Regions from separate parts of the Homo sapiens genome. Here all the other regions are linked to region 3. Evidence: fine-mapped expression QTL. A gene starts in region 3. Each other region holds a variant in brackets. All regions are shown on one strand. Distances are between the middles of the regions. Region 1 overlaps KAT8 (lysine acetyltransferase 8). Region 2 holds the start of ZNF668 (zinc finger protein 668). Region 3 holds the start of ZNF688 (zinc finger protein 688).

Evidence for each region. PIP is the estimated chance that this variant, and not a neighbour inherited with it, causes the effect.
Region 1: its variant is fine-mapped to the expression of ZNF688 in whole blood (INTERVAL, PIP above 0.99).
Region 2: its variant is fine-mapped to the expression of ZNF688 in whole blood (INTERVAL, PIP above 0.99).

The regions. Positions count from the first base shown.
Region 1 is chr16:31,124,121-31,126,872 of GRCh38, forward strand. All of the region lies in intron 3 of KAT8 (lysine acetyltransferase 8), which reads left to right. Among named protein-coding and RNA genes, the nearest start is that of KAT8, 7.8 kb to the left of the region's middle. The variant CA/C (reference allele first, on the strand shown) is at 1,483.
Region 2 is chr16:31,072,093-31,074,844 of GRCh38, forward strand. ZNF668 (zinc finger protein 668) reads right to left here and starts at 2,148. Exons shown (of 3, transcript NM_024706.5): 1 at 1,567-2,148. It overlaps ZNF646 (zinc finger protein 646), which reads left to right and starts at 2,330. Exons shown (of 3, transcript NM_014699.4): 1 at 2,330-2,539. RefSeq lists enhancers at 1,024-1,824, 1,116-1,410, 2,030-2,563, 2,069-2,208, 2,564-2,752 and a silencer at 1,299-1,758. The variant G/A (reference allele first, on the strand shown) is at 1,252.
Region 3 is chr16:30,570,625-30,573,376 of GRCh38, forward strand. ZNF688 (zinc finger protein 688) reads right to left here and starts at 1,090. Exons shown (of 3, transcript NM_145271.4): 1 at 810-1,090; 2 at 386-499. The coding sequence starts at 1,005. RefSeq lists a silencer at 858-1,097.

The DNA of each region.
Region 1 (2,752 bases), 550 kb after region 3:
ATTGGGAAATGTGTTTTAAAGAGATGTGTGAGGAGGAAAATCTTTCTTCCTCATCTTTACAGTGGTTAGGTTCAGAATTGGACAGACCAGGGGCCCATGCCCAACTCTGCTGAGTACCAGTTCTGTGACCTTGGGCAAGTGACCTCACCTCTTTGTGCCTCAGTTTTCTCTCATACAACAGGGACAATGAGCACTCTTATTTCAAAGGCTCATTGTGAGGAACAAAATGAAATAATGTCGGCTGGGTGCAGTGGCTCATGCCTGTAATCCCAGCACTCTGGGAAGCTGAGATGATTGGATCATTTGAGGTCAGGAGTTCGAGATCAGCCTGGCCAATATGGTGAAAGCCCGTCTCTACTAAAAATACAAAAAGAGGCCAGGCGCAGGCAGACCACGAGGTCAGGAGTTGGAGGCCAGCATGGCCAACATGGTGAAACCCTGTCTTTACTAAAGATACAAAAAATTAGCTGGGTGTGATGGTGCACACCTGTAATCCCAGCTACTTGGGAGGCTGGGGCAGGAGAATCGCTTGAACCCAGGAGGCGAGGTTGCAGTGACGTGAGATTTTGCCATTGCACTCCAGCCTGGGCGACAGGGCGAGGCTCCATTTCAAAAAAAAAAAAAAAAAAAAGGCTATGGCTCATGCCTGTAATCCCAGCACTTTGAGAGGCCAAGGTGGGTGGATCATCTGAAGGTCAGAAGTTCAAGACCAGCCTGGCCAACATGGTGAAACCCCATCTCTACCAAAAATACAAAAAATTAGCCGGGCTTGCTGGTGGGCGCCTGTAATCCCAGCTGCTTGGGACACTGAGGTGGGAAGATCGCTTGAACTCAGGAGGTGGAGGTTGTAGTGAGCCAAGATTGCACCATTGCTCCAGCCTGGGCAACAAGAGCAAAATTTCATCTCAAAAAACAAAATAAATTAGCTGGGAATGGTAGCAGGCACATGTAGTCTCAGCCACTTGGGAGGCTGACGTAGGAGAATCACTTAAGCCCAGAAGGCAGAGGTTGTGGTGAGCTGAGATCTCCCCACTGCACTCCAGCCTGGGCGACAGAGTGAGAGTCTATCTCAGAAGAAAAAAAAAAAAACATGTCTGTGCCGTGCTTGCCACTTGGAATAAATGGCAGCTCACTAGTCCCCGAGGGTAAGGGACCTCACCTTGCCCTGCCTGTTTACTACTCTGTAAAATTGAAATAACGCAGCTGGGTGCAGTGGCTCACGCCTGTAATCTCAGCACTTTGGGAGTGCGAGGCTGGTTGATCACCTGAGGTCAGGAGTTTGAGAACAGCCTGGCCAACATGGCGAAACTCCATTGCTACTAAACATACAAAAATTACCTGGATGTGGCGGCATGTGCCTGTAGTCCCAGCTACTTGGGAGGCTGAGGCAGGAGAATTGCTTGAACCTGGGAGGCGGAGGTTGCAGTGAGCCGAGATGGTGCCACTGTACTCCAGCCTGAGCAACAGAGTGAGACTCCGTCT[CA/C]AAAAAAAAAAAAAAAAAAAAAGAAATAACACTCTATGTAAGGGTTACTGAAAGGATTAAATGAGGCCATATAAACATATAGGCACAGTGCTTTGTGGAGGGGGTTCTGGGTAAAGCACTGGCTCCTTCCTCCCTTCTCAGCTACAGGGCAGGGCCTTGTCTGCCCTGGTGTAGGTCATGGACCGTCTTGGGTCCCCCTTCCATTGTCAGGCTGTACTGGGTTCCTCCCACAGGGTCTGGCCTAGGAGCAGGATGTGTTGTGAGTGTGGTGTGACTCTTAGTCTCTGCTTTCTAAGGACTTGAAAAATAGAGGAACCCAGGTGGGCATACTTGGACAGTGTTGCCCTGTTGACCACTTCTCGCTGAACTTGGGAAGGAGGGAATGTTTTCTGGATGGGAAGAATCCAGTCAGGCCTCCTGGAGGGGGTGGTAAGAATCTCAAGCCTTGAAGGATGGGAAAGAGCACAATAACAACAGTGACAAAGGATAGATCACAAAGCATCATGGACTCACCTGACTCATGCTCCGTGCCAGGCTGAGGAAGTGTTTTCTGCTGGCAGTGAGAGAAGGAAGGGCATTCTCCAGGTAGAAGGAGCTGTTTGTGCAGAAGCATGAAGGCCGCTAAAAGGGGGCTGCTGATAGCAATGAGGAGGCTGGGGCTGGAGGCAGGGAGTCTGAGGCGGCCTAGTAAATTGTCCAGACCTGAGATGGGGCCATGACTACCTGGAGCAGGACAGAGAGGAGAATTCCAGAGAGGGCCCAATTCCAGAGATGTCAGAAGTAGACTCGACATCCACTGTATTAGGACTTGGCCAGGCCGAGGGAGAGAGAGTAGTCTGAGGCAAGCCTAGTTATGGGTCTTGGACACTGGGACCAAGGGTGATGTTCCCAGTAAAATGAGCAACCCAGGAGGAGGCGCAGGTTTGCAGGGAGGAGTGATGAGGTCCTTTCTGCACATCTTGAGTCCGCTGTCCCTGTGGGAGGGACCTCTGGGGCAGTCGCATGGGCAGGCAGGGTCTGGTCCTCAGGAAAGGGGTCCAGGAACATCGGGGAGGTAGTAACAGTTCTTACGCTGGGCCTGGAAGGCAAATCTGTTATTTCATTTGAGTCTCACAACTTTGGCAGAGCTGGATTGCCCCCCATCGTGCAGCTGAAGCCCCATCCTGATCCTAACCCTGTTCATCTGGCAAAAGGTCCAAACTTGGACATCAGGGATGTCTGGGATATCGGGGGTGGGGCGGGTGGGTGTGAGAGGAGTCTGGACCAGCC
Region 2 (2,752 bases), 500 kb after region 3:
CCAGTGTTCAAATCCCAAACACCTGCTCTCTGAGCCCTGACTATTGCTTTGCTAGCATTACACATCTTATGGTTTGGCTGTTAATTCTTCATCACCAGCACCAGAGTCCAGGCTGGCAAAGGGCTAGGAAACCGATCATCTGCCTCCTCTACACCCAGAACCCTGTGTGGTGACCCAAAACAAATGGAAAGAACCAACCTCAGATGAAATTTGAACCCAGGTCTGTAGCCTCTGCCTCCTCCACAGTAGGAGTTTGTGAGAATGTCCACCAATAACTGTTTATTAACTAAATTCCTCCACCTTTCCAACTCCACAAGGCTCAACTATTGCCCCAATATCCCACAGTGGGCTCCCTGTCGTGGCGATGAAGCCTTGCTTTGCCTCACTACTGGCTTAGGAAGGGGATGAAGTTCTGCTGTCTCACTAGGCAAGCAAAGATTCAATTTCCAAAAATCCTAGGCTAGGACCCTGGGGCAGGGATGAGGAGAAAAAGGAGGCACCTCAATCTTCCCATCTCTAAACAAGCAGTCACCACACAGGCCTCACGGCCAGGAGTGACGTAGTGAGCGGATGAACCCTGCAGAAGTGAGCGCTAATCATATCCTAGGCCTCCTACCGGGCCAGTTCACAACCTGATCCCAACCTACTTTTCCAGCCTCAGCTCCAGCGACAGAGTCCTCCTCCCGGCAGCGACCGAACCTCCAGCCACAATTCTCAATCCTCCACCTCTAGATGCAGTTTCCTGGGCTCGGGGAGCCCTTGCCTGCCTTCTCCAACGGGAAAGCCCCTTTACATCCTTCAAGAACCCCCTTCCCTAGTGCCCTCAGGAATACTTTATGGCAGTAGAGAGGTAAGGGCCCCACGCCGCTCTGGACCTCAGTTTCCTCATCAGTAAAATGGGGTCCCTTAAGTTTGTGGGAGTTTGAAGGGCGGTGGGGCCTACGAAGCGCGCCGAGGAGCCGAGAGTTGCAGAAACCCGGAGCTCCTCGCTCCTCGCAACCGTCTGTACGCGGCGCCCCCGCCAGCCAGGCAGCCCCTGGAGGGCAGGACCCCGGTTATAAGCCTCAGAAAACGTGGCTTCGGAGGACGTGGCAAGGAGGACTGAACGAAGGATGAGGAGATGAACAAATGAATGGACGGAAGGCCGAATGAGGGACAAAGGCTTGCAAGATGGCGTTCTCTAGGACCGCGGGAGTGGTGGCCGGGCCTCAGCAGGGGAGGGGGCCGCCGGCGCCTGGGATCTTGCAGCGC[G/A]GGCCACGCGACCGGGACAAAAACCCAAAACATGGCGGGCTCTAGGACCCCCGGGACCACACCGCGCCGGGCCAGCAGCCGCGCGGGCCGAGCCTGGGTGTCCGCAGCCCAGAACCGCGGAGACAGCCGGCGGGTTCTAGGACCTGCTGGGCCCGCAATGCGCCCGGGGCCGCTCACAGCCCGCCCCGCCCGCGCTGCTCGCGCTGGGCCAACCCGGCCCGCCCTCGGCGCCCGCAGGGAAACTGAGGCCAGCTCGGATCGTGGCCGCGTGGGAGCTGCCCGGGGCCCTCGCGGCTTCCCGCCGACGTTTCCTACCTGATGAGACTTGTGCTGACTCCGTGGCGTCGGCGTCGGCTCCTCGCACCGACGGAGCCCGGACCCTGCCAAACAGGGGCCGGCGCTAGGACCCAGCGGGGGGCGGGGAGGTGGGACCGGTGGCGCGGCGAGCGGAAGTGAGGGATCTTCCTCAGCTAGGAAGGAAGGGAAAGTTCCCGGGGAACCTCCAGCCTATGGCGGCAGAGAAGCATCTTGCAAGAGGTCTCTGTGTGTGCTGAGGCAAGGGGACGCCAGGCAGGCTGACGGTATACGCCCGCCTTGTGTTAGTCTGGGGCCAGGTCACCGGCAATGTCTTCAAGAACCAGAAGGTGGGAGGACAAAAAGGCCATGCTCAAGCTCTGCAAAACCTAAGTCCAATTATATTCCACAACATTTCCTTTAATAGCAAGGAGTGGGTTTCACGAAGTTTTCTCCATCTGCCTTGGGAAAAGTCCTCCAGAGAGCCCCACGAAAAGTGTCACCAAAGTACTGTGGCCAGGGCTGTAGAATCTTTTTCTCCCTTTCTGCGCCTATTCAATATGCACCGGAACGATTCTAGCTGCTCTTGCCGGAAGTGTGGCTAGCTTAGCGTGCAAAGACGCCGCGTTGTGACCTACGTGGGCGGAGTCAGCCGTGCAGACCTAGAACTTAGCGCCGGAAGTGTGTCTGCGTAAAACTGCGGCTCGGAGGCGGGACAGGCAGTGCTCCCGAAGCGGAAGTTTCGCGGGGAAGCTTTTGCACCTAAGGACACTTCCTGTTTCCTAGTAACAATAGGAAGTGTCCGTAGAGCTGGGAGTAGACTCCTGGCTCATGCCAGCTGCGCCCTCTTTTCTCTACCTCCTTCCTCTTCCCCCCTTCTCCTTTCCCTCTTTCCCTTCCCTCCCACCTCCCGGGAACCCTGGCTGAGTGTGCGTGTGTGGGAGCGCGAGAGCCCCCCGACAGCCACCCCTTGGGGCGCGCGGCTGCAGTTAGGGTAAGGGTCCCAGTGCGCAGGCGCGCTCTTGTTCGCGGTCCCCAACTGACGCGCCCGCGGCGGGAAGGAGAGGGGGCCGCCGGTGCGAGGTAGGCGTCCTGAGAGGAAATTGGCAGACGAGATGAGTGAGGTCAGAGGACTTCATTGGTGGTTGACTAGGGGAGGGGACTTTTGATCAAAGGGGCTTTGTGAGGTGAGAATTCCGGGGGCAGG
Region 3 (2,752 bases):
AAATGGGAATAATAATGGCTTTTGACTTCACAGCGTTACTGGTTTAGCTGAGTAGATGCATGTTAAGCACTTAGGAAGTGCTCAGGAAGCAGGGGCTATTATTTATTTATTTATTTATTTATTTATTTATTTATTTATTTATTTTTGAGACGGAGTCTCACTCTGTCACCCAGGCTGGAGTGCCTGGTTGGACTGGGCTCCCAGTCCTCACAGGACCGCTGTCCCATGTTCTGAAAACTTTGTACCAGGTCTGCCTTCTTTACTCCTCTAGTACCCAACACAGTTGAATTTCTTTAGGGATGCTGGAAGTGGGGGCCTGAAAAGAAACTCTGCTAGACAGGAAGCCCTGGAAAACCAAGTGGGGGGACCCGGGACTATCCCTCACCTCTCCGAGCTCCTCCCAGTCTTTCCCCCTTCTCAGGATCCTGGGCGGCGGGGCTCCAAGCCTCACTCTCCTGTTCCATCCAAGAGATGAGGGCTGGTTTGGGGCCTGGGAATCCTGGGAGAGAACAGGGATCACAGCGCGGGCCTGAGAGGCCATCGTGGGAAGATGGCATTCCCCTCCAGGCTGAGGGCACCCCCTCGGAGCTTATACTCAACCTGGAAGGGGCTGCAGTGCTGCTGCCTGAATGAAATGGATGCGGGTGAAAACACTCCCGAGGGGGTACCTGAAGCCCTGGGAACGGGAGGTGGCTGCTGGTGTTGGTGCAAGAGTGCGGGATTAGGGCTCACAGTCCTCTCGGCCCTTCTACATCATCTCCCCTGTGAACCCGGTGAAGGAGGAGGGGGCTCGGACCCGGGGCTCTCACCGAGCGCGCCCAGGTGGCCGTAGGTCTCCTGCATCACGTCCCGGTACAGAGCCCTCTGCGCGGGCCGCAGACAGCCCCACTCCTCCGGGGAGAAGTACACGGCCACGTCCGCGAAGCTCACAGTCCCGGGCTTCCTGCAACCAGGCCGGGTCTCCCCGGGCCTCGGCGCCAGGAGCGGGGCTGGGGGCGGCGCCATGGGGCCTCGCAGCCCCGATCGGCGGCCGCCAGGTCCCTGGAGCCGCCGCCTCCCCGCTCCCGGCCTCAGCTGTCGTTGTCCACAGGAAGGGCGGCCCCGCCCAGCCGTGGCGTCCGAACGCAGCCGAGGCAACCGAAGTAGCAGGGACTGGCTGCTAGGGATTCGAGGATTCTGATAGGGACAAATATAATTCCTCAGTGTTTATTCACTTCATGGCCGCTTGGACATAGACACCCGGGTTAAGGGACCCGGAAGGTGCCTTCTGAAAATATGGCGACCACCCTTCAATTGTCACAGGCTGCTCTTAAGGGCGCCATTATTTGACCATATCAAATATGGAGCCTTTCTGACTTCTCTGGCCTCATCGTCCCACTTGCCCTTAAATAAAGCCGCTTCGGCTGCTTTTTCTAGTGGGGGAGGCGGGGTGTCTGGGAAGTAGAGGAGAGGCTTCTTGCCTTCAAGAAAGATGTAAGGGCCCGAAGCTTCACTTACCCCTCTGTACCCGCAATACGCAACGGCCGATGATTGGCGACGATCCCGGAAGAAGCTGCGCGGTGATTGGCCTGGGACTGGCGGGGCATTTGAAGGGACCCCGCGGTCCTGAAGCCTCTGTTGACAGACTGGAGCGCAGCGGAGACCTCGGCATCTGCGGTGCTCGGGATTGTGTCCCCTACGGTCTCTTACCGTGCCTCCCGATGGCGGGAGCTGGAATTTGGTCCCCAGACCCCTTGGGAAGACGCGCACACCCTGGCAAACCATGTGTACACCCGCGGTAGAAGCAGGTGCGTGTTTTACAGTAGCTTAGCTGCGGAGTCCACCCAGCCCCTGGCATCCGCAGCTCGGCTCGCTCAGGCTCTAGACCGAAGCTGCAGGCGAAGGAACGTGCTTGGTGAGGATGGAATCGGAATGGGGAAGTTTTAAATTAAATAGTAATTGTTGCTAACATACATGAATTTATTTTTTGTTTGTTTTGAGACAGGGTCTTGCTCTGTGGCCCAGCAGTGCGATCCTAGCTCACTGCAGACTCGACCTCCCGGGCTGAAGCGATCTTCTCACCTCAGCCTCCCGAGTAGCTGGGACCACAGGCGCACACCCAATGCTTGGCTAATTTTTAAATTTTAAAACAGAGACAGGGTCTTGCTATGTTGCCCAGGCTGGTCTGGAACTCCTGGCCTCAAGCAATTCTCCTGCCTCGGCCTCCCAAAGTGCTGTGATTACAGGCATGCGCCACGGTTCCCAGCCATTTCTACTTTTTCTTTGAGAAGGAGTTTTACTCTTGTTGCCCAGGCTGGAGTGCAATGGCGCTATCTCGGCTTGCCCAGGCTGGAGTGCAATGGCGCTATCTAGGCTCACCGCAACCTTCGCCTCCCAGGTTCAAGCGATTCTCCTGCCTCAGCCTCCCAAGTAGCTGGGATTACAGGCATGAGCCACCATGCCCGTCTAATTTTGTATTTTTAGTAGAGACGGGGTTTCTCCATATTAAGTCAGGCTGGTCTCGAACTCCCGACCTCAGGTGATCCTCCCGCCTCAGCCTCCCAAAGTGCTGGGATTACAGGCGTGAGCCACGGCGCCCGGCCCTGCCATTTCTACTTATTTACGTTGTTCCAAATTATCAAAGATAGCATCAACTTTCAAATCCTAATTTTTTTTTTCCTGGGAAACCTTCCTCCTTTAGCCTTCAGTCTCCTCTCTAAACTGGGTTGGGCCTCAGTTCTTCTCATACCGGGTCTCCCCTTCCTGCTGTCCT